Homo sapiens: one gene and its partners. The protein of the gene in region 2 binds, or shares a complex with, the protein of the main gene of each other region. Each region holds a gene or a part of one and is shown on either strand. Other genes may lie near its edges. The genes, in order: TCTN1, TMEM17, CEP290, B9D2, MKS1, AHI1 and TMEM67.

Region 1 (3,500 bases), on a different chromosome or scaffold from region 2:
TGATCATGATGGCAGGTGCCTGCAATCCCAGCTACTTGGGAGGCTGAGGTGGGAGAATTGCTTGAACCTGAGAGGCGGAGGTTGCAGTGAGCCAAGATCACACCACTGCACTCCAGCCTGGGCGACACAGCAAGACTCCATCTCAAAAACAACAACAACAACAACAACAACGCAGCTCTATCACTAGTTCTGACAAGTTGCTTTCCTGTGCCTAAGTTTTTCTCATCAGGTAAATGGAGACAATGGTGCATCCCTCCCAGGGGGGTGCATGAAGTAATGCCTGAAAAGCTCTTCACAGTGCCTGGCACATGGAAAATGCTCAATGGTAAATTTTATATTGACATGGGAAGATGCACATGATTTATCACTGAAAAAGGAATTTTCTAGAACAATGTGGATACCTATAAATCCCACTTCTATACAACACCATATATACATTATAATAGACATATTTAAAAATCAGGAAGAATACACACCAATCTCTTCAAAGTGATTTGCAGTATGAATATTAATGGATACAGGGATCTTTCAACTTATATGCCTCTATATGTTGAACTTTTAGAACTAGTACATGTTGCTTTTATACTTTGCTTTTAAAAAGATGCTTCCAAAAGAGTTAAGGTTCATTCAGTTAATATGTGTCCCATTTAAAGGTGTACTACTGAATAGACATAAAACAGCACACATCTTCCAAAATCTGTAAAACTAAATACAATTTTGAGAAGATGACCAGACAACCAACCAATCTACTCCATGATCTCAGCAACATGCCTCAAGCATTTTGCTGCATCTTTTAAGGTTGAGGAGAACAAAGAACTCTGAAGAGACAAAATACAAGTTTATCACAGAATAAACAACCTTAAATCCTCTATTCAGAATTCAAATATTCAGTTTTATTTTTATTATTATATTTTAAGTTCTGGGATAACGGGTGCAGAACATGCAGGTTTGTTACGTAGGTATACACGTGCCATGGTGGTTTACTGCACTCATCAACCCATCATCTACATTAGGTGTTTCTCCTAATGCTATCCCCTCCCCTAGCCCACCACCCTCTGACAGGCCCCTGTGTGTGATGTTCCCCTCCCTGTGTCCATGTGTTCTCATTGTTCAACTCCCACTTATGAGTGAGAACATGCGATGTTTGGTTTTCTGTTCCATGTTAGTTTGCTGAGAATGATGGTTTCCTACAAAGGACATGAACTCATCCTTTTTTATGGCTGCTTAGCATTCCATGTTGTGTATGTGCCACATTTTCTTCACCCAGTCTATCACTGATGGACATTTGGGTTGGTTCCAAGTCTTTGCTATTGTGAATAGTGCTGCAATAAACATACGTGTGCGTGTGTCTTTATAGAATGATTTATAATCCTTTGGGTATATACTCAGTAATGGAATTGCTGGGTCAAATGGTATTTTAGGTTCTAGATCCTTGAGGAATCGCCGCACTGTCTTCCACAATGGTTGAAATAATTTACACTCCCACCCAACAGTGTAAAAGCGTTCCTATTTCTCCATATCCTCTCCAGCACCTGTTGTTTCCTGACTTCTTAATAATCGTCATTCTAACTGGCGTGAGATGGTATCTGATTGCAGTTTTGATTTGCATTTCTCTAATGACCAGTGATGATGAGCCTTTTTTCATAGGTTCGTTGGCCACTTAAATGTCTTCTTTTGAAAAGTGTCTATTCATATCCTTCACCCACTTTTTGATGGGGTTGTTTTTTTCTTGTAAATTTATTTAAGTTCCTTGTAGATTCTGGATATTAGCCCTTTGTCATATGGATAGATTGCAAAAATTTTTTCCCATTCTGTAGGTCACACGTTCACTCTGATGATAGTTTCTTTTGCTGTGCAGAAGCTCTTTAGTTTAATTAGATCCCATTTGTCAATTTTGGCTTTTGTTGCCATTGCTTTTGGTTGTTTTACTCATGATGTCTTTGCCCATGTCTATGTCCTGAATGGTATTGCCTGGGTTTTCTTCTAGGGTTTGTATGGTTTTAGGTCTTACATTTAAGTCTTTAATCCATCTTCAAATATTCAGTTTTAATTTTCATGATCTTTGATTTGTAGGCATGAACATTAAGTTTTTTAGTCTATAATATCAACTCTGTCTCAAGGAACCCAGTTTTCCTGGTAACCTTGAAAATTAACTTACAAGGAAAGATATTTGTGATGGGATGAAAAGAATCAATCAAGTTCAGGCTCACCTCATATTTAGCAGCAGTAGGAATATCCAGTTTGGTTGTGAAGGAAACATATGATTCAGCATTCAATGTAAAACCATCAGATGTTTTCATCAATGTATCAAAATTGTTTTCATCAGGTACTTCTGGATTAATAAAGGATAATGCAGGTTTATCTGTTTTTTAAAAAAAACAGTATTTTAAATCGGTATAAAATATATGTATAATATGTATGACCTATATAAAGGTTTTGGAAAGTTTTTAATAGCATCAAGGCTGATGTAAAAAACAAATAGTGTCTTGGCTGGGCGCATGGGCTCACGCCTGTAATCTCAACACTTTGGGAGGCCAAGGCGGGCGGACTGCCTGAGGTCAGGAGTTTGAGACCAGCCTGGCCAACACGGTGAAATCCTGTCTCTACTAAAAATACAAAAATTAGCCAGTCATGGTGGTGTGCACCTGTAATCCCAGCTACTCGGGAGGCTGAGGCAGGAGAATCGCTGAAACCCAGCAGGCAGAGGTTGCAGTGAGCTGAGATAGCGCCACTGCACTCCAGCCTGGGTGACACAGTGAGACTTCATCTCAAAAAAAAAAAAAAAAAGTGTATTTTTCCATATTCACTTCTCCCAGGATTTTTTAAAGCTTATTAAACAAACAGGACCTCCAGACTCAGCCTGCTTCTTCTAATAATGGGGAAGTAATAGTTTGTAGCACTTACAAGTAAACAGCACAACAGAAGCCAATAATAATCCGTCTATTTCTCTAGCCCCTGGACTGATGAGTTTGCTGTATCAACCTGTAAGGAGAAGCTCTCTCCGGATGGCTATGGGAATGAAAGAATCCGACTTCTACTCTCACACAGCCACCGTGAAAGTCCTGGAGTAAAATGTGCTGTGTACAGAAGAGAGAGAAGGAAGCAGGCTGGCATGTTCACTGGGCTGGTGTTACGACAGAGAACCTGACAGTCACTGGCCAGTTATCACTTCAGATTACAAATCACACAGAGCATCTGCCTGTTTTCAATCACAAGAGAACAAAACCAAAATCTATAAAGATATTCTGAAAATATGACAGAATTTGACAAATAAAAGCATAAACGTGTCTCTGATCTTTGATATCCTGATAACATTTTACATGTACATGTACTTTGGATCTAGACATATATTTGAGCTAAATGCTCAGATAAAAATAAAGATCCTGTTTTCATGCAAATATTCTTAGTAAAAATAAAAGAAAAAAGGAAATAGAAACCACAGGTAATGTTCAAAGCTGAGCCTGATTTTCAACCATTAAACCAGGAGGAAATAAAGTTAA
Region 2 (3,478 bases):
TATCTGTGGGAGATTCATTTTTATTTATTTTATGCATTAATTTTATATGCTATTTACATAGAATTCTACAAAAGAGGCAATGATAATTATCTGTTGAATAGGATTTATGTTGATATTCTACATTAAATCTATACCAGTAGTATATGCCAAAAAGTCAGAAGACTGTAATGGCAAAATGGTAAAATAATTGAAAAATATGAAACGTACCCCCAAATAGCCAATATTTGACCTAACTGGTATTAGGATGAATATTCCTTTTACTGTCAATGATTATAAATAGGCATAAAATTTGGTGTTTTACTGAGCCAATATTATAGTTATTAATTCTAGGGAATAGGATATATATATATAGGGCATAAACCCAAGATTCATCATTTGTTCCTTTTCTGTTCCTTCTGTAGAAAATGAAATGGTCTCCAGTTTGGCACTGCAGATGTCACTTTATTTTAATACCTACTATTTCCCACTGTGGTGGGTGAGCAGCATTATGATGCTTCACATGAAGGTAAATCTAAGCTTTAATACTTTTGCTGCCCTGACGTTGTTAGAGTGTCAATAAAATTCAAGTTCTTAATAATTTTTTCTATCTTAAATCAATGTTACTATACATGAGATTTTACAAACATGTTTTGGCTTTTCTTTTAGTATTCAATCTTACCTGACTACTACAAATTCATTGTGATCACTGTTATCATCCTAATAACCTTAATTGAAGCCATCCGGTTGTATCTGGGCTACGTGGGTAACCTACAGGAGAAGGTAAGCTCTTTTTTCCTTTCTCTCAGTGATAGATATAAATGAAATCAGTTTTCATAACAAGTAAAAGGCAGTGAGGTGTGGCAGAAAGAGCACAGGCCTGAATTTAAAGCCTGACTCCAGCTTTACCACTTCTGTCACTGTGGTCTGTTTGCTTAATCTCTTGAGCCCTGGTTTCCTCATATATAAAATGAGGAAAATAATATTTACTTCACAGGTTTGTTGTGATTAAGTGAAATGATTTATGTAAAGTATATGAATGTAGTAAACACTTAAAATTGATATTTTCCCTCTTCTTATCAGTCTTGAAAATACATGGTTACTTAAACATGTGTATTTGGATCCTGAATAAGAAAATGGGGGAAAATTATGAATTCATTTCCTATGCCAGGCCCATGTTTTCTGCATCATCATGCTGCCTAAGCATTTGTGGTTACCAGAGTATAGGGATAATGCCTAAAGATTCCCGTGGTTTTCTAGGCCCTTCATAATAAGGCCCCACCCAGCCTGTCTTACTGTAGGTTTTGCTGTTTTCTCACTCAGCCATCCATTCCAGGCTGATGTGCTGATTCCCAATCATGCTAATTTCACGTGTTTGCTTACTTACCTTTTTGCCTCTTCCTTCTTCTCCACAACTTAAAAAGCCTACCTCCCTGAGGTCTTTCTTTCACCTACCCTAATCACTCCCTTATTTCTTGTAGCATTTAGTCTGTACTTCTAAATATTGCACTTAATTGTTCACTAAAGTGTAGTATTCTAGGATTGTTTTACATGAATTAGTTTTCTCATCTAGACTGTAAGTTCTCTGAGGACAAGGACCATGTCATCCTCCTTTGGAATCACTCACAGAGCCCATAATGTAGGTTCACGGTAGTGATAAGTACTTGTTTATCTGTATAAACAGAAACTGTATTTTACTGATTTTTATTACTCTTGATATGTGTCATTGCAGGTTCCTGAGTTGGCTGGCTTTTGGCTTTTGAGCCTTCTATTGCAGTTACCTTTAATTCTTTTCTTGCTCTTTAATGAAGGCCTAACAAATCTGCCCTTGGAAAAAGCGATACATATCATCTTCACTCTCTTCCTTGCTTTCCAAGTTGTTGCAGCATTTCTTACCTTAAGGAAAATGGTTAATCAGTTGGCAGTTCGTTTCCACCTCCAAGACTTTGACCGGCTCTCTGCAAACAGAGGAGACATGAGAAGGATGAGGTCATGTATAGAAGAGATCTGATCCAGTGTTGTTGAGTGAAAATCTGACAGATCATTCTAGAGACTGTAAGAGTTAGGAAAATATCAGAGCTCTGAGAAAAGGGACAAAGCAAGTGTTTTGAATTGTATATGCTCTCACTCTGAAATTCCAAGGTTGGGGGCAATGATGAAACTTTGTACAGTATATGAAACAGTATATTAACCCTAAAACCTAGATGTTGTCCACCTGATGCCAAATTTCTTAATTTTTTTTGATGTTGTTGTCTTTTTCAGGAGTGTAGAAATCTATGTATTGGTGGTTGTCATTTGCCAGCTCTCTCGTAGCATTTCTGGTTAGAATCTTTAACTAGAGATGTATACATTTCTTTAAAACTTGTTGGTTATCCATGTCTTGTCTGTACATATGACCATGTTTCTTGACATGGAAATACCAGTCAGTGTTCCTATGTATTTGTCTATATTTGTAAACCAAGAGACCGGCTGGGTGTGGTGGCTCACGCCTGTAATCCCAGCACTTTGGGAGGCCGAGGTGGGCAGATCATGAGGTCAGAAGATCGAGACCATCCTGGCTAACACGGTGAAACCCAGCCTCTACTAAAAATACAAAAAAAAAAAAAATTAGCTAGGCGTGGTTGCAGGCACCTGTAGTCCCAGCTACTTGGGAGGCTGAGGCAGGAGAATGGTGTGAACCCAGGAGGCAGAGCTTGCAGTGAGCCGAGATCAAGCCACTGTACTCCATCCTGGGTGACAGAGCAAGACTCCATCTCAAAAAAATAAATAAATAAAAAATAAAACAAGAGACCAAATTTTCATGTCTGCTAGGGTTAAATTCTAACCCTAATATTAGCTGTTATACTGAGATGAAGAAGAAAACAGGTGGATTGCCTTGGTATTTAGGAAATATTTTTGTTATAAAATTACAACTTTCATAAAACCATATTCAGTATTTGTAATGGTGGTATACAAAATGCTTTTACAATAAATTATTAAATATTTAAGGTATCAGCAGCAAATCATCCTTGTCTTGTGCAATTATTTTGGGCTATAGATTTGTGTTTTTTATTACAGAGTTGCAAGAGAAGGAAGGAAAACAAATCCTAGAGAACTTTCTATGTAGTGGGCACTGTAGTAGGCATTTTAAATTAGCACTTGTGATTGCATCTACTAGGTTCTTGTTCACCAAAGAACTGCTTCATACCCATTAAATTCACGTGAGGCTTGATTTGGAAACCAGAGCGCCTCTTAATACATATGAGAGCTAAGATGGCCAAAGGGACTATACTCATGATCCTAAATGAGCATGCTCCCTTGCTAATAGGAGAAATCTATTTTAGGAGAATTGGTTAAGAACAAAGTTGCTTGGGTGTATCTGAACATTATATTTAAGTGACTGTTGGACTGTCTTAATGGATATGATATGTTCATTACAGGTTTTCTTTTTTTCTATAGGGAAATGGGCCTTCATAATGTATTTTACTGAGGGACAGTTGTAGCTGCATTAAAAACTGCTCTT
Region 3 (3,500 bases), on a different chromosome or scaffold from region 2:
AATGTGGTAGAGAAAGTATGGATCGATGCCACTTAAATGTTAGGAAGAAGCTCTTAGAGCATTATCTGTTTAGCTAACTGCAAAACATAGCAGACATGTGGATTTTTTAATAGTCATCAAGGATCTAACTTATAATATACACTGGTAGAATTGCTTAGGGGGATGTCTGTGGTTTTCTGGACTTTTGTTCTTCTATATAGACCTGTATCAGTTGACTTATCATTCATACCACACACCCTTAGCTAATCAGAACTACCTTGTCCATTTATATCTTAGACTATTGTCTTTTTTCATAGTCACACACAGAGAAAACTTGAATATATGGCCTGTGTTCCTTTTTGGCTGCTCAATTCCTTGAGATGAAATATGGGTATGGGTTGCTTTGGCAATTACTTCTTTGCCGTTAACCAGTCATTCAGTTTTATTGAGTCTTTACAGCATACCAGAGGCTGCTAGTTACTAGTGATATAGTGGGCAACTATGTTCTGGTTCTCAAGAATATTCATAGTCAATAATAAGCATAACATAGTGATAATATGATACTTAGGGAGATACATAAGGTCATATTCTGGCATACTCTGGAGAGAGATACCGTAATCAGCCTTGAGGTGCAGGATGTGATCTGTAAACTGAGACCTGAAGTATAGTTAGACTGGTAAGAGGAATGAGGATATATATGGTGGTTAATAAAAGAACATTCTGGGTAGAAGATATAGCATTTGCTAAGACCTAGAGGTAAGAGATGTTATGGAGTATTTAGGAAACTACAGTTATTCATTTTGACTGAAATATAAGTGAAAATAGCTTTCATAGAGTCCTTACTATGTGCCAGGCACTTCATATGCATTAATTCATTATTGCTTATTTGATACTTGTCATATGAGATAGTTGTCATTTCTGCCATGATACAGATGAAGAAATGGAGACACAGAAAGAGTAATTGCCCATGGTTGCACAGCTTATAAATGGTAAAGGTAGGATTTGAAAACAGTCTTACTCAAGAGTCTGTGCTATCTTGCCTTCCCAGTTTTATTTTTTATGATCCTCTGGAGAGATAAGCAAGGGCCAGTTCCTAATGAATTTGGTTCTTTTCCTGAAAGGAGCCAGTGAAGAGTTTTGAGCACAGGATATCATGATCAGATCTATACTTTAAAAGTTTACTGTACTTTGTAGAGAGTGGATTGAAAAGGGCCAAGACTAGTAAGGAAACATTTGTGTTAATTCAGGGAAGTGCTAATGATGGCATTTGCCTGAGAAAGACAAGTGTGAGAGAAGTAGATGTAATTGGATGTGGTGAATGTAATTGGTTGTTGGAGGAGAGGGAGGATGGAGAGTCTGCCTAATTTTGTGGGTTGGGCCACTAAATAGGTAGATAGTGCCATTCATTAAGGAGGAACACAAGAGGAATTTGGAAAGCTTGAGATTATTTCAGTTTTGTAGATGTTGAGTTTGAGGTTCTTCTGGGCATATTCAAAAAGGGTATCTGTGGATATGGAATTCACAAGAGACCCTGTACAGATGATGAGGATTTATGAATCATCAATGTAGACATTATTGAAGCCAGAGAAGTGATTGTAAGGCACGTCTCTGAGAAATGTCTAATAAAGCAATGAAATAGGAAGAGTGCTTCAAGGAAAAGCTCAAGAAAGGAGAAACAGAGTGTGATGTTTGAGAAGACAAGGGAAAAAAACATTAATAGCATTAAATGCTTTAGCATTAAGTTCTTGGCTTCTCTTCTTGTAAAAATTTCCCAATTCAGAACACAGTGGGATTATTAACTTTCAATTGATAATAATAATGATAGGCAAACTTCTAAAATTTGTATTGTAGTTTGCATTTTATTATAAACTTTCTTTAAATTTTTATTTTGAAAAATGTCATATCTTCATAAAGATTGTAAGAAACACACTGTTGGTGTTAATGTAAATTAGTTCAACCATTGTGGGAGACAGTGTGGCAATTCCTCGAAGATCTAGAAGCAGAAATACCACTTGACCCAGCAATCCCATTACTGGGTATATACCCAAAAGAATATAAATCATTTTCTTATAAAGATACTTGCACACATATGTTCATTGCAGCACTATTCACAATAGCAAAGACATGGAATCAACCCAAATGCTCATCAATGATAGACTGGATAATGAAAATGTGGAACATATACATCATAGAATACTATGCAGCCATCAAAAGAGAATGAGAGGTCAAGCGTGGTGACTCATGCCTACAGTCCCAGCACTTTGGGAGGCCGAGGCAGGCAGATCACTTGAGGTCAGGAGTTCAAGACCAGCCTGGCCAGTATGGTGAAACCCCATCTCTACAAAAACAAAACAAAACAAACAAAAATTAACTGGTCATGGTACTGTATGCCTGCAGTCCCAGCTACTTGGGAGGCTGAGGCAGGAGAATGACTTGAACCCAGAAGGCAGAGGTTGCAGTGAGCTGAGATCGCACCACTGGACTCTAGCCTTAGCAACAAAACTAGAGTTTGTCTCAAAAAAAAAAAAAAAAAAAAACCGGAACAAGATCATGTCCTTTGCAGGGACATGGGATGGAGGTGGAAGCCATTATCCTCAGCAAACTCACACAGGAACAGAAAACCAAACACTGCATGTTCTCACTTATAAGTGGGAGCTGAACAATGAGAACACATGGACACATGGTGGGGAACAACACACACTGGGACCCGTCAAGGGGTCGGGGTGGGAGAACATCAGGAAGAATAGCTAATGGATGCTGGGCTTAATATCTAGGTTATGGGTTGATCTGTGCAGCAAGCCACCATTGTACACATTTACCTAAGTAACAAACCTGCACATCTTACACATGTACCCCAGAACTTAAAAGTTGATGGGAAAAAGAAAAACAATAACCACCCACATACCCTTCATATAGATTCACCAGTTCTTAATGTTGTGCCAACTTTGCTTTATCTTTTTGTCAGTATTTTTACACACACATGTATTTCTCTGTCTCTTGTTTGTTCAATCACATTTTTTGCTGAGTCATTTAAGAGCTAATTGCAGATATGATACTTTGCACTTAAATATTTCAGCTTGTCTGTTTGAAAAAGAAAGATGTTCTCCTACAATGAACACAATATAATTGTCATGCTCAGGAATTTTAATATTGATTCAACACCATTATCTAGTCCATAATGAGATTTCTTCTAATGGCCCAATAATATCCTTCAGTCTCCCCACCTCCAATATCCAAAGTTCTGTCAAGGATCACATACTACATTTGGTTCTTTATTATAGACTTTTTAAATATCGTTGTATACCATTGTGATTCTATCGTCTCCTTTAATAAAGAGGAGAACCAGAAAAATGAAAGGTCATAAGAGGAATGAGGTTTGGAGAATAGGTGAAAAAAGGCATCATAATGTTTATAATAATGTTTGCCTGTTCAGAGAAACAAGAATCACAGATAAAGTCACTTATATGTAGATAAGAGAATGCTGTATTACTTTTTGCTATTCTATTCACTGATCATTTTTC
Region 4 (3,500 bases), on a different chromosome or scaffold from region 2:
CTGACCCCCCACCTTCCCACCTCCTGCTCCACCCTGGCCTCTGCCCTAATCATACAAACTTGGGATCGCCTATTGAGCAGGCCTGGGAAGGCCTTAGCTCAGCCTCTCCAGGGCCAGACTTGGCTGCAAAAGGGACCTACGTGGTATGGGGAGCAGGGACAGGTCTTGGTGTTCCCAGCCCCAGGGACCTCAGAGGCTACTGGCCCCCTCCCCTCAGCCTGGACCCGGGTCCAGGTGTGATACCCACCTTGAAGACCTTTGGTGGCGAAGTGCAGGTCGATGGGGTGGGACCAGTAAGCCATGTCCCCTATCTGCGGGGTGTCCACTTGCGTTTGGCCCTCCCGCACGCCTGACAGGAGCTTCCATGCCGCCCCTGCAGTGAGAGCCGGGACATAGAGGGGTGGGAGGCAGCCATCGGGAAGGGGATGCCGCTGTGGCTATAGGACTGTTTCTCTGTGGCATCTACTGGTAGGGGTTACGAAGCATGGACTCTGGAACCAAGTATCTGGGTTCAAATCCTGGCACTACCTCTTCCTGCCTCTGCAACCTTGGGCAAGTTAGCTTTCTCTGCCTTGGTCTCCCCATCTATAAAATGAGCTGAGTAATAATGCATTCCTCATTGTCTTCATTTGTTTTCTGTTACTCTTAACATAATATCCAAAACTGGATAATTTATAAAGAAAAGGAATTTCTATCTCACAGTTATAGGAGACTGACCAAGGTGGAGGAGCCCCATCTAGTAAGAGCCTTCTTGCTGGAACTCTTCAGAGAGTCCCAAGGCTAGTGTGCTAACATGCCACTCACGTCTCTCTCTCTCATTTTATAAAGCCACCACTTCCTCTCCCATGATAACCCACTAATCCATTAACCCATTAATCCATGAATGGGTAATGAGCATAGTGAGCACGGGATAAGTCTTCAATATCATTTTATTACGATTCTCACCCCATATTTTCAAGCCTAGTCCAAGGATTAAGATGGGGCCAAGGGTACCCTCCAGGAGCGCATCCTGAAACACACATAACAATTTCGATCCTACTGAGGGGTGATAATGATAGCTAAAATGCACTGAGTGGTAGGATACAGTGGCTCACACCTGTAATCTCAGCACTTTGGGAGGCCAAGGCAGGTAGATCCCTTGAGTCCAGGAGTTCAAGACCAGCCTGACCAACATGGCAAAACCCCATCTCTACAAATAATATAAAAATTAAGGCTGAGCGCAGTGGCTCACACCTCTAATCCCAGCACTTTAGGAGGCTTAGGGGGGGGTGGATCATCTAAGGTCAGGAGTTCAAGACCAGCCTGGCCAACATGGCAAAACCTCGTCTCTACTAAAAATACAAAAATTAGTCTGGAGTGGTGGCAGGTGCCTGTAATCCCAGGTACTCGGGAGGCTGAGGCACGAGAATCGCTGGAAAAGCTGCAGTGAGCCGAGATTGCACCACTGCACTCCAGCTGGTGTGACACAGTGAGACTCCATCTCAAAAAATGAACAAACAAGCCAGGCGCAGTGACTCACGCCTGTAATCTCAGCACTTTGGGAGGCTGAGGCGGGCTGATCACCTGAGGTCAGGAGTTTGAGACCAGCCCGGCCAACATGGCGAAATCCCATCTCTACTAAAAATACAAAAATTAGGATGGGCGCAGTGGCTCACATCTGTAATCCTAGCACTTTGGGAAGCCAAGGCAGGTGGATCACTTGAGGTCAGGGGTTCGAGACCAGCCTGGCCAAAATGGTAAAACTCTGTCTCTACTAAAAACACACACACACACACCCACAAAATTAGCCACGTCTGTAATCCCAGCACTTTGGGAGACTAAGGCAGGCAGATCACAAGGTCAAGAGATCGAGACCATCCTGGCCAACATTCTGAAACCCTATCTCTACTAAAAAAATACAAAAATTAGCTGGGTGTGGTGGCGCACGCCCATAGTCCCAGCTACTCAGGAGGCTGAGGCAGGAGAATCACTTGAACCCAGGAGGCGGAGGTTGCAGTGAGCCAAGATGGTCCCATTGCACTCCAGCCTGGGCAACAAGAGCGAAATTCCATCTAAAAAAAAAAAGAAAAGAAAAAAAGAAAATGCACCGAGTACTAACTAAATCCCAGATGCTATGCTAAGTACTTTAAGCATCCATTCATTTAATCCACCCTCTAGGACTCTTAATCCCCTCCTCACCCCCCAGTTTACAGACCCTCCACCATGGCCCACGTGGCCTGGCTCTTGCTCCCCTCCCTGAGTTCATCTCCCATCACTCTCCCCCTCCCTCATCACCCTCTGGCCTCACTGTCCCACTTCTGACTCCCCACCTCAGGGCCTTTGCACTGGCTGTTCCCTCTGCCTAGAAAGCTCTGCTCCTGGGTGTCCCCATCCCTAGCTTTTGTTTTCATCCTTCAGGGCCCAGCTCAAGTGCCACTTCCACAGAGGGGTTCTCCCTGACCCTCTTCACCAAACACTAGTCCCTGCCACATCATTTCTTTTCATCCTAGCACTTACCACTGTCTGGAATCACGGTGCTCCTTTCTTTTTTTGGGGGGGTGGGGGGAGACAAGATCTCCCTCTGTCACCCAGGCTGGAGTGCAGTGGCACAATCACAGCTCACTACAACCTTGACCTCCCAGGATCAAGCAATCCTCCCACCTCAACCTCCCAAGTAGTTGGGACGACAGGCACACAGCACTATGCTTTGCTAATTTTTTATTTATTTGTAGAGACGGGGGTCTCACTATGTTGCCCAGGCTGGTCTCAAACTCCTGGGCTCAAGTGATCCTCCTGCTCCAGTCTCCCAAAGTGCTGGCATTACAGGGGTGAGTCACCACACCCAACTGCACTCGTTTATCTGTTTATTTATTTTATTTTATTTATTTTTTTTTGAGACAGACTTTTGCTCTTGTTGCCCAAGCTGGAGTGCAATGGCACCATCTCGGCTCACTGCAACCTCCGCCTCCTGGGTTCAAGCGATTCTCCTGCCTCAGCCTCTCGAGTAGCTGGGATTACAGGCACACGCCGCCATGCCCAGCTAATTTTTTTTGTATTTTTAGTAGAAATGGGGTTTTACCATGTTAGCCAGGCTGGTCTCAAACTCCTGACCTCAGGTGATCTGCCCGCCTCGGACTCCCAAAGTGCTGGGATTACAGGCATGAGCCACCGCGCCTGGCCTGCTTATTTATTTTCTGTCTCCCCTACTGTATGGCCCAGGAAAACAGGGACCTTGCACACTGCTGGATCCCCAAGACCACAAACCCAGCTCTTGGTATACAGAAGGTGCTCAATAAATGTTTCTTGGACAAATAAGTGATCCTAGGAGGTGGGAGCTAATATAATCCCCATTTAACAGGTAAAGAAACAGGCTCTGAGAAGGTGAGTTCATGAACATTTATTCAGCACCTGCTATGTGCCAAGCACTGTTTTCCATGCTGGTGACATAGCAGTGACTATAGCAGACCAAGGTCCCATCATGGGACTGGATTCAGACTCAGCTCTAACTGCAGAGCCCAAGC
Region 5 (2,157 bases), on a different chromosome or scaffold from region 2:
GTATCCGTACATAGGAGAGGTCCTCCAGTTCCAGAGAACCGCCAATGAAAAACCTCCTCAGCTCAGCCACCGTGCCAAGCTCCACAGGTCTCCACGTGGAGACTGTCAGGGTGTGTGAGCCTGCGCAAGGGAAGAGAAGACTGGGGCCAGGTCCAGAAAGGGCATGTGGCCCCTCACTGACTCCCCAGCAATGACACAGGCCTAGACTCAGCTAAAACACCTGGTCTGGTGATGACCTGGCCTCTGGTGCAGGTTATCATGGTTACCCATAGCACCTGTATGGAAATCAATCAGGGAGAAATTCAAATTTCCGCTCTGCCAGTTATTACCTGCATACCCAGGACAGGTTTCTTAACCTCTCTGAAGCTCATTCTCCTCATCTAGTAAAATGGAAATAATACCACCTGCACCTCACAGAGTGACTGGGAGAATTAAGTGAGAAGTATGGCACAATGCCTGGCACACAGTAAAAGACAGATGCTTTTATTCCAAACTGAATGCTGATTCATTCAATACACATATGCTATGAGCCAATTTTGCCATACAGCTTCTCACCCTGAGTCCAATCAGAGGAGCATGAAGCACATGGAGAGACTGTCAGGAAGTCAGTGCCAAGGCCACGTCATTGTCGCTAATGGAGGGGGGCAGAAAGTCCTCAGAGGAACAGGAACTCTTTCAAGCCAAACATTTCCAATTCCCAATTATCTCCACCCCTCACCAGAAGCATTCGAGTGTTAGTCTTGTTCTTAGGGCCTAGGGCATGTGGGCCACAGAAGGGCAGAGACGAGCGGTTACCTGGAGTGGCAGGCAGCACCACAGCCCCATAGCCTTCCACACGGTACCTCTGCCAGAAGTCCAGCGAGAGGACCTCACAGTAGAGCACAGGCCACTCCGGGAGTGCATCTGGGAGCAAGGAGAGAAGCGGCCAGGTCACAGGCGGCCTTCACCAAGAGACAGCACTGCTTGAGGGGAACCAAGGCCCAGGATCAACTGCTGAGCTACTCACCAGAAGATTCATCCTCATGGAGGAAGAAGGCTTCAAACGTGAATGGGTAGGAGAAGTGAGCCACCTTGTCCTATAAAAAGGAGTGTCATAGGGTGGGCAAGGCCTCCCTTGGAATCTGTTCTCCTTGTGGCCAATGACAAGGTTATCTTCACAAGGGAAAAAGAAAAATTATCACCCAGGTGGGAAATAGGAGTCTGAGATGCAAAAGGACACCCAAATACAAGCTGCTGCCATGCTCAAAAAGACAGACAGGATCTCCGGACCAGGTGGCCCTGTAGAACCCACACACAAGTCACCCAACTCTGGAATCCTCCCCAGGGCGCACAGCACTTGGCCTGATAAAACCTCAAATGCCATCCCAGGAGCAGATCTCATTCCCTTCCAGATACCCGCTCTCATTCTCCATACCATTGCCAGGGACTTGGTGGTGCAGGTCTGTGTTACTCCTGAGAGCTGCTGGAATGCTGGGCTTGACCAGTCTGAAAGCCAAAGACCAAATATAGTAAGCTCGCCTGGGAGGAAAGCAAGTCATTCAGAAAAAGACAGTTTCTTTTTTCTTTTCTTTTTTTTTTTTGTATTTATTGATCATTCTTGGGTGTTTCTCGGAGAGGGGGATGTGGCAGGGTCATAGGATAATAGTGGAGAGAAGGTCAGCAGATAAACACGTGAACAAAGGTCTCTGGTTCTCCTAGGCAGAGGTCCCTGCGGCCTTCCACAGTGTTTGTGTCCCTGGGTACTTGAGATTAGGGAGTGGTGATGACTCTTAAGGAGCATGCTGCCTTCAAGCACCTGTTTAACAAAGCACATCTTGCACCGCCCTTAATCCATTTAACCTTGAGTTGACACAGCACATGTTTCAGAGAGCACGGGGTTGGGGGTAAGGTTATAGATTAACAGCATCCCAAGGCAGAAGAATTTTTCTTAGTACAGAACAAAATGGAGTCTCCTATGTCTACTTCTTTCTACACAGACACAGTAACAATCTGATCTCTCTTTCTTTTCCCCACATTTCCCCCTTTTCTTTTTGACAAAACCGCCATCGTCATCATGGCCCATTCTCAATGGTCGCTGTCTCTTCGGAGCTGTTGGGTACACCTCCCAGATGGGGCGGCCGGGCAGAGGCGCTCCTCACTTCCCAGACGGGGCGGACA
Region 6 (3,500 bases), on a different chromosome or scaffold from region 2:
TTATAATAAAATAGACATTGCCAGGCACAGCGGCTCAAGCCTGTAACCCCAGCACTTTGGGAGGCTGAGGCAGGTGGACTGCTTGAGCTCAGGAGTTTGGGACCAGCCTGGGTAACATGATGAAACCTCGTTTCTACAAAAAATAGAAAAAAAGTTAGCTGGGCATGGTGGCACATGTCTGCAGTCCCAGCTACGTGGGAGTCTGAGGTGGGAGGATCACCTGAGCCCAGGGAGGTTGAGGCTGTAGTAAGCTGTGATTGCACCACTGCACTCCAGCCAGTGAGACGCAGTGAGATATTGTCTCAAAAAAAAAAAAAAAAGACATAAAATTGATTTTACATAAAAAAGGCACAAGACTGTAAACCCTTTGAGTTGTCATATTTTCTTTGTGTGCCCTAAGGCAAATGAATAGGTGAATGGGCTTTTTTTGGACAATCTTCCTGTTTCCATTCCCCACTGGCTTTCCAAACAATTTTTTAAAAAATTCTAGTATAAATGTGTATTTCATTGTACTTTTCATTTGGGATTTCAAGCATGCATTAGCTATAGAAGTACTCTTAGAAAAAACATTCAAGATTCATTTACCTTACCTGAAGCCCAGATAACATTACTTTCAAAAGAAAAATATGAGGTTAGACAATTAAAGCATTTACAATGCAATATAAAATATTTACAATGCAACTTTATGTCATAAATTACATCTACTAAGCTGGCAGAAGCTCTCTACCACTTAAAATGAATTATTCCCTTCCACTTAAAAGTAATTACTGAGCCAGGCACGGTGGGTCATGCCTGTAATCCCAGCACTTTGGGAGGGTGAGGCAGGTAGATCGCCTGAGGTCAGGAGTTCGAGATCATCCTGGCCAAACCCCGCCTCCACTAAAAATACAAAAATTAGCCAGGAGTGGTGGCGAGTGCCTGTAATCCCAGCTACTTGGGAGGCTGAGGCAGTAGAATCGCTTGAACCCAGGAGGCAGAGGTTGCAGTGAGCCAAGATTGAGCACTGCATTCCAGCCTGGGCGACAAAGCGAGACTCCATCTCGGAAAAAAAGTAATTACTGAATTAGATGTTCTCCATTTCTTCTACAACATTCTGATCAATGTTAATGACTGATGAACACCTACAACTAGTAGACTATTCTCTAATACAAATCCATAACTCTATTCCCACTGACTTTCAACTACCAATGGCAGAAAAAAGACTTCTACTAGTTTCAGTTTCAAGAATTAGTTGTGCAATTAAAAAAAATTACCTATCATCTTTCTTGACATATTGACCAGTATGCTCATCAACCACATGAATTTTTACCATTGGGTGAGAAATCATAAAATCTGACTTAAGTCTATCAGTTCGGTGAATGTAAACTCCCAAGACAAGGTCATCATCAAGCAAACATTTGGGATAAACCGGGCTATCTCGGCTTGTTATTTCATGAACACCATCACCATCAACATCTTCATTATTATCTGCAACTACACGCATGGAAAAAAAAATCAATGTTATAATTAGTTGTTCCCATAGTAGTATTTACATATAACCTAATCTTTAAGATCTGTGATGATCTCACTGTGTTCAAAGGAACTTCAGGGGGAAAGAAAGAAAAAGCCAGACAACAGCAAACCATAGTGTGAAAGTAAAATACTACATTTGCTAATACATTACAAATAAGGTGAAAAATCCTTGTTTATATTTTTCCTAATAAGTAGGAGAAACACAAAAAGAAAAAAAAGAGAGTCAAAGTCAGAAAAGTAACTTTATCCAGGTATTTTCTAAGTAGAATATATATGACAACTAGAATTTCTAATTCTGGGTGGGATGCAGTAGGATGCAGCAGGTAAACACTTTGGGTAACAACTGGAAAGAGCCAAATAAATTACAAATATCTTATTTTAAATTTTAAAGGCATCAGAAAAGTACAGAAAGAAGATATAGTAGACAGATTAAAATTCCAGAAAGGGAGAATCAGTCAGAGGTCAGCTGATGGACTGGCAGCTGTTTTTGTCTCTGGGGACATTTGCTGATTCAGGGTGTGAGCTGAAGATGAGAGTTTGGCTTAGGCAGAAAGTCACTGCCAGGAGAATGAGAAATAAGCAAAACTTTTAGTGATTCCACAGGACTAAAATGATAAAACTGGAGATTTGAGAAGCCTCAAACACATGACCAATTCTTCTCACAAAACTGAATTCTGATGCTACAGAGAAGCTAGAGAGGTAGTGAAATCTCCCAGGCTTGTGGTGCTAGCAGACCATGATCTGCCAGGGGAAGGGGACCAAAACAAAATAGGCAAAGGTGAAGCCCTGGAGGGTGTGGTCAATTTACACTAAGGACCAAGAGCAACTTTTCATCTGGGGTCATCTACCAATTCTGGTCACAGTTCTAGGTTGATAATCCAGGTGTGATTTCTGGCAGAAGGTTGCTACTGAGGGACAGAGAAACCAGCGGATATTTTGGCATGCTTGGGGGCTACAGTGACAAAAATGGATACCTGAAGGATGTCTAACATATAGCCAGTCTCCTGCTCAAAGAATTTGCCAAATTTTGAAGCAGCATGAGACAGAAGACTAAATGGCTAAGTGGAAAAGCACTGAAGGGCAAAACTGGATCTCCCATCGTATTTAGGGCTATGAATTATTAGAGATAAAGAAGGGCGCTGCATTATGATAAAAGTGATAACTTGACAAGAGATACAAGAAAAATAAACTGAAAATCGGAATGGAAATGTTAATACCTCTCTCAACAGCTGACAGAATAAGTAGACCAAAAAAATTAATAAGAAGAACTGAGCACAATTAAACTTGACCTAACTGACATACATAGGACACTGCACTCAACATTAGAAATTGCATTCTTTTCAAATGAGCATGGAATATTTACCAAATCTGACCATAAAATGGTCATTAAAAAGGCCTCAATAAACTCAGAGGATTGAAATCATTCATAATATGTTATCTGACAACAATGGAAGACAGAAACCAATAAAAGATAACTAGAAAAGCATCTGCTGCCTGAAACTAAGCAACATACTTCTAAATAATGATCAATTAAAATGGAAATTAGAAAATATTTTGTGTTAAATAATAAAAACACACAATATTAAAAATTTTGGAGATGCAGGTAAAGTAGTACTTAAATGGGAATTTAGTCTTAAATGCATATAAAAGAAGACTGAAATCTTTCTTATAAAACCCAATTTTAAAGCTAGAAATAAGTAGCAAATCAAACCCAAATAAGTACAAAGAAGGAAAATACAGTTACAAGAAAAAAAATCACTAAAATAGTACATAAATGTACAACAGAGAAAATCAAAGCTAAAGGTTGGTTTTTGAAAAGACTCATAAATTTAAAATCCTAAGGCTGATCAAGAAATTGAGAGAAAACAAACTGCCAATACCATGAATGAAAACATGGGACAGCCTTTCAGATGCTATAGAAATGCAAAATTTGGATGAAATAGACACATCCCTCAAAAACTACAGTATATCAAATAGCTGACAGAAGT
Region 7 (3,500 bases), on a different chromosome or scaffold from region 2:
GAGCAAAGGAATCTGGAGACAGACAAAACAACTTTTAAGATCTCAACACTTTATCCAGAGTGGTACCTTTTACCCTTGATTAATGGAGACAAAATTCATGCCTGAAGACATTTTGTCCCATTGTGAATGTATCATCAGACTTTAAAGAAAGTTATATACTGAAATATCATTTTATCAAATAAGCCATACAAATTCATGGCTTCTTTGAAAAAAATATTTAAGGCAGAGTTTCAGACTGAGCATCTACTATAAATAAAAGTAAATTTACCACATAAAATAATTAATGCTTTCTTTCAAAACCAAAGTGAATTTCACGCCAAAGATTTTTGAAAGCATTTTAATTTTAAAGACTTGTTAGTTCATTAGCAGGCCTTTTAAATTTGGTAACCTGTCCTTTAAAACTTACCTTCAGAGCAAAGGCACATCCAACATAAGTGACAAAACGTTCTTCCTGAATTGGCATTGGCAGCAAAACAGACACAGACTTCTGTGCCTATAATAAAAATTACTTGATTAAATATTATCACACACAGTTTTTTTTGTTTGTTTGTTTGTTTTTTGTTTTCGTTTTTGTTTTTTTTTGGGAAAGGAGGGTCTCAGTATGCTGCCCGGGCAGGACTTGATTCTGGACTCACAGGATCCTCCCACCTAAGTCTTCCAATTGAACAAGGTTTTTACTAAGCACAATTTATAAACCAAAGAAAGCATAAAAGAGGAAGATAGTGATGTAATCGATAAGCTCAGCACACTCAAGGAATGGGGAGTTGGGAACTTTTCTTAATACTGTTGATCAAAAATTCTCTCAAATAAAAATAGTTCCTTTATAAAGAAAGCTTTTCAACTATTCAGATATTGGCAGTTGGGGAAAATTCAGAAACTCACTCACTTTGAAGAAAATAAGCCAGTAAAGACCTGTTCCCACTGTGATGATAAAGAAAACATTGGCCAGATCACCAGCATAGTACACCAAGAATTTCACAACTGTCTGCAATTTAAAAAAAAGAATTACAGCTGTTTAAGACTCCATGTATATACCACTTTTAGTAACACTACCACTTTTATACATCATCCACTCCATTTCTTAAGCCTGAAGCCTTGTTTCACATATCCCCATATGATCCAGCTATAAAGACCACCTGCTTCCTCCTCCTTGCTACCTTTTGGCTCCTTACCTTTCTGGCCGTTCCTGGTAGCCTCTTCTTTCAACTCTTCTCATCTTTCACTATCTAAGAAAATTGAACTGCTTCCTAATTTTCTCTTAGTTGGGAATCCTCCCCTCTAATCTCTCCTCCACACTACCACCAGAGTTAGTTTTCTAAGATGTAAATTGGATTGTGTCACTCCCCTTGTTAAAAATGAACAACTCCTCATTGCAATATAAATTCCTGATCCACAAGGTCTTTCACAATATGGGCCAAAATTAACTTTTTAGCCTCATCTGCCAGTTCCAGCCATGTAGTCAATGACTAACCACTCCATACGTTCATCTCAAATACTTTCTGGAATAAAATGGGCATTGTTTTACCAAATATTCTTCTCTTCCCCTCTCTGGTAAGTTCTCATGATTTCTGAGAGCACAGACTATGTCTGTCTTTGCTCACTAACACATTCTCCAGCTCCTGGTAGAGTGCCAGACACTTAGACAATAGAGCCTCAGTGACTATTATAGAATGAACAGATAATCCCACTTAAAGTTCATTTCTCTGGGAAGCCTTTCTGGACTATCCCAAGTAGTAAATCAAGTACCCCTGCTGATTCCTTAGCCCACTGGCTTTGGAATCAGAAAGATACTTTGGTTAAAGCTACCATGTAACCTTTCTCATGTTCTTCATCAACAAAACGGAAATACCTATTACTGAGTTGCAAAAATCAAGTGAGTAGAAAATTTAACCTTTACCTCAATTTCATCACGTGTAAAACGCAAATAATAATAATAACCTAACTTCAAAGAGCTACTGTGCGGATTCAGAAAATTACATACATAAAGCTTTAAAAAGTGCCTGGTACATGGTAAATATTTTTTAAATGTTTAATAAAAATAAAAGGTTAACCATGAAGTGAAAGTATAAAGTTAATAGAATAAAATGTGGACTATCTTTGTGATCTTGATATAGGGACGGTTTTCCTAAACAAGATCCCAAAAGCACGTATCATAACATGAAAAAAAATATTCAGATATGATGATATCAAAACCAAAAGTTTCTGGCCAGGCGTGGTGGCTCATGCCTGTAATCCCAGCACTTTGGGAGGCTGAGGTGGGCGGATCATGAGGCCAGGAGTTCAAGACCAGCCTGAACAACATGGTGAAACCCCGTCTCTACTAAAAATACAAAAATTAGCCAGGCATGGTGGTGTGCGCCTGTAATTCCAGCTACTCAGGAGGCTGAGGCAGGAGAATTGCTTGAACCCGGGAGGCAGAGGTTGCAAGTGAACCAAGATTGTGCCTCTGCACTCCAGCCTCAGCGACAGAGTGAGACTCCGTCTCAAAAAAACAACAACAAAAAAAAACAAAAATGAAAACAAAAACAAACCTGAAAGTTTCTGTTAAACAAAGGACTACATGGATAAAAATAACGGATGGGTCACATATTTATTTGGTCATATATTTCAACATCAGAAACCAAAAAGGGGTTACTATTTAGAAAATACAAAAAAAAATTCTTCAAATAAACAATAAAAACTGGAAACATAATAGAGAAATGGGCAAGGGATATAAACAGGCAGTTCACAGAAGGAGAAACCCAAACGATTAAAATGTATATGAAGAGTACAGAGAAATGAAAATGAAATCAACAATGACATACTACTATATGCCATGAGGTTGGCAAAAAATGAAAAGGTTGGAAAAATATCAAGTGTTGCCAAGTATGTGCAGAAATAAGAAGAGCATTGCTGGTGGGAATATAGACTGGCATACAGTATGGTGGGAAGAAAATGAGGTACACATATACCATATGACCCAGCAATACTTACCCTAATTACATATCCCAGAAAAATTCAATGCAACTTTTTTACTTATTCTCTAGCTGTGTCTTATGAGAAGGATCCAGAATGGTCAAAAGATAAAAATATTCTTAAAAAACTCCTGAGATTATACCTGTAAATCAATCATGGGACTCCCAATGCGCCTCTTCCATCCTGCTGTCTTCAAAAGAGATGCTAAAACAGCTAGCCCACCCAATACACCCAAAGCAATCTAAAAAACAAAAGAACAATTGAGAATTTATGTAATTTCTGTCATCGGTGTTCAAAAACACTGTGAACAAGTAAGGAAGTGCTCAAAAAAATGGTGGGGTGGGAAATGTTGAAAGGACACAGGAGTCAGCCGGGCACAGTGGCTCACACCTGTAATCCCAGCACTTTGGGAGGCCGAGGCAGGCGGATCATGAGGTCAGGAGATCAAGACCATCCTGGCTAACACGGTGAAACCCGTCTCTACTAAAAATACAAAAAATTAGCTGGGCATGGTGGTGGGTGCCTGTAGTCCCAGCTACTGGGGA

The links.
Region 1: TMEM17 (region 2) and TCTN1 share a complex: the UniProt entries of both Homo sapiens proteins name them as parts of the tectonic-like complex.
Region 3: TMEM17 (region 2) and CEP290 share a complex: the UniProt entries of both Homo sapiens proteins name them as parts of the tectonic-like complex.
Region 4: TMEM17 (region 2) and B9D2 share a complex: the UniProt entries of both Homo sapiens proteins name them as parts of the tectonic-like complex.
Region 5: TMEM17 (region 2) and MKS1 share a complex: the UniProt entries of both Homo sapiens proteins name them as parts of the tectonic-like complex.
Region 6: TMEM17 (region 2) and AHI1 share a complex: the UniProt entries of both Homo sapiens proteins name them as parts of the tectonic-like complex.
Region 7: TMEM17 (region 2) and TMEM67 share a complex: the UniProt entries of both Homo sapiens proteins name them as parts of the tectonic-like complex.

What each region holds. Positions count from the first base shown.
Region 1 is NC_000012.12:110,627,629-110,631,128, reverse strand, and holds part of TCTN1 (tectonic-1 isoform 1 precursor), read right to left. Parts: intron 3,200-3,500; exon of another isoform or gene 2,905-3,199; intron 2,363-2,904; coding exon 2,211-2,362; coding exon of another isoform or gene 2,097-2,210; exon of another isoform or gene 872-2,096; intron 1-871. UniProt on the Homo sapiens protein: Component of the tectonic-like complex, a complex localized at the transition zone of primary cilia and acting as a barrier that prevents diffusion of transmembrane proteins between the cilia and plasma membranes.
Region 2 is NC_000002.12:62,499,718-62,503,195, reverse strand, and holds the end of TMEM17 (transmembrane protein 17), read left to right. Parts: intron 1-401; coding exon 402-505; intron 506-645; coding exon 646-759; intron 760-1,708; coding exon 1,709-1,987; 3' UTR 1,988-2,978; downstream 2,979-3,478. UniProt on the Homo sapiens protein: Transmembrane component of the tectonic-like complex, a complex localized at the transition zone of primary cilia and acting as a barrier that prevents diffusion of transmembrane proteins between the cilia and plasma membranes.
Region 3 is NC_000012.12:88,132,089-88,135,588, reverse strand, and holds part of CEP290 (centrosomal protein of 290 kDa), read left to right. Parts: intron 1-3,500. UniProt on the Homo sapiens protein: Involved in early and late steps in cilia formation. Its association with CCP110 is required for inhibition of primary cilia formation by CCP110.
Region 4 is NC_000019.10:41,357,650-41,361,149, forward strand, and holds part of B9D2 (B9 domain-containing protein 2), read right to left. Parts: intron 374-3,500; coding exon 248-373; intron 1-247. UniProt on the Homo sapiens protein: Component of the tectonic-like complex, a complex localized at the transition zone of primary cilia and acting as a barrier that prevents diffusion of transmembrane proteins between the cilia and plasma membranes.
Region 5 is NC_000017.11:58,207,099-58,209,255, forward strand, and holds part of MKS1 (tectonic-like complex member MKS1), read right to left. Parts: intron 1,486-2,157; coding exon 1,415-1,485; exon of another isoform or gene 1,410-1,414; intron 1,077-1,409; coding exon 1,007-1,076; intron 904-1,006; coding exon 796-903; intron 632-795; coding exon of another isoform or gene 606-631; exon of another isoform or gene 463-605; intron 121-462; coding exon 1-120. UniProt on the Homo sapiens protein: Component of the tectonic-like complex, a complex localized at the transition zone of primary cilia and acting as a barrier that prevents diffusion of transmembrane proteins between the cilia and plasma membranes.
Region 6 is NC_000006.12:135,456,241-135,459,740, forward strand, and holds part of AHI1 (jouberin), read right to left. Parts: intron 1,474-3,500; coding exon 1,254-1,473; intron 1-1,253. UniProt on the Homo sapiens protein: Involved in vesicle trafficking and required for ciliogenesis, formation of primary non-motile cilium, and recruitment of RAB8A to the basal body of primary cilium.
Region 7 is NC_000008.11:93,792,894-93,796,393, reverse strand, and holds part of TMEM67 (meckelin isoform 1 precursor), read right to left. Parts: intron 3,197-3,500; coding exon 3,098-3,196; intron 986-3,097; coding exon 887-985; intron 494-886; coding exon 407-493; intron 1-406. UniProt on the Homo sapiens protein: Required for ciliary structure and function. Part of the tectonic-like complex which is required for tissue-specific ciliogenesis and may regulate ciliary membrane composition.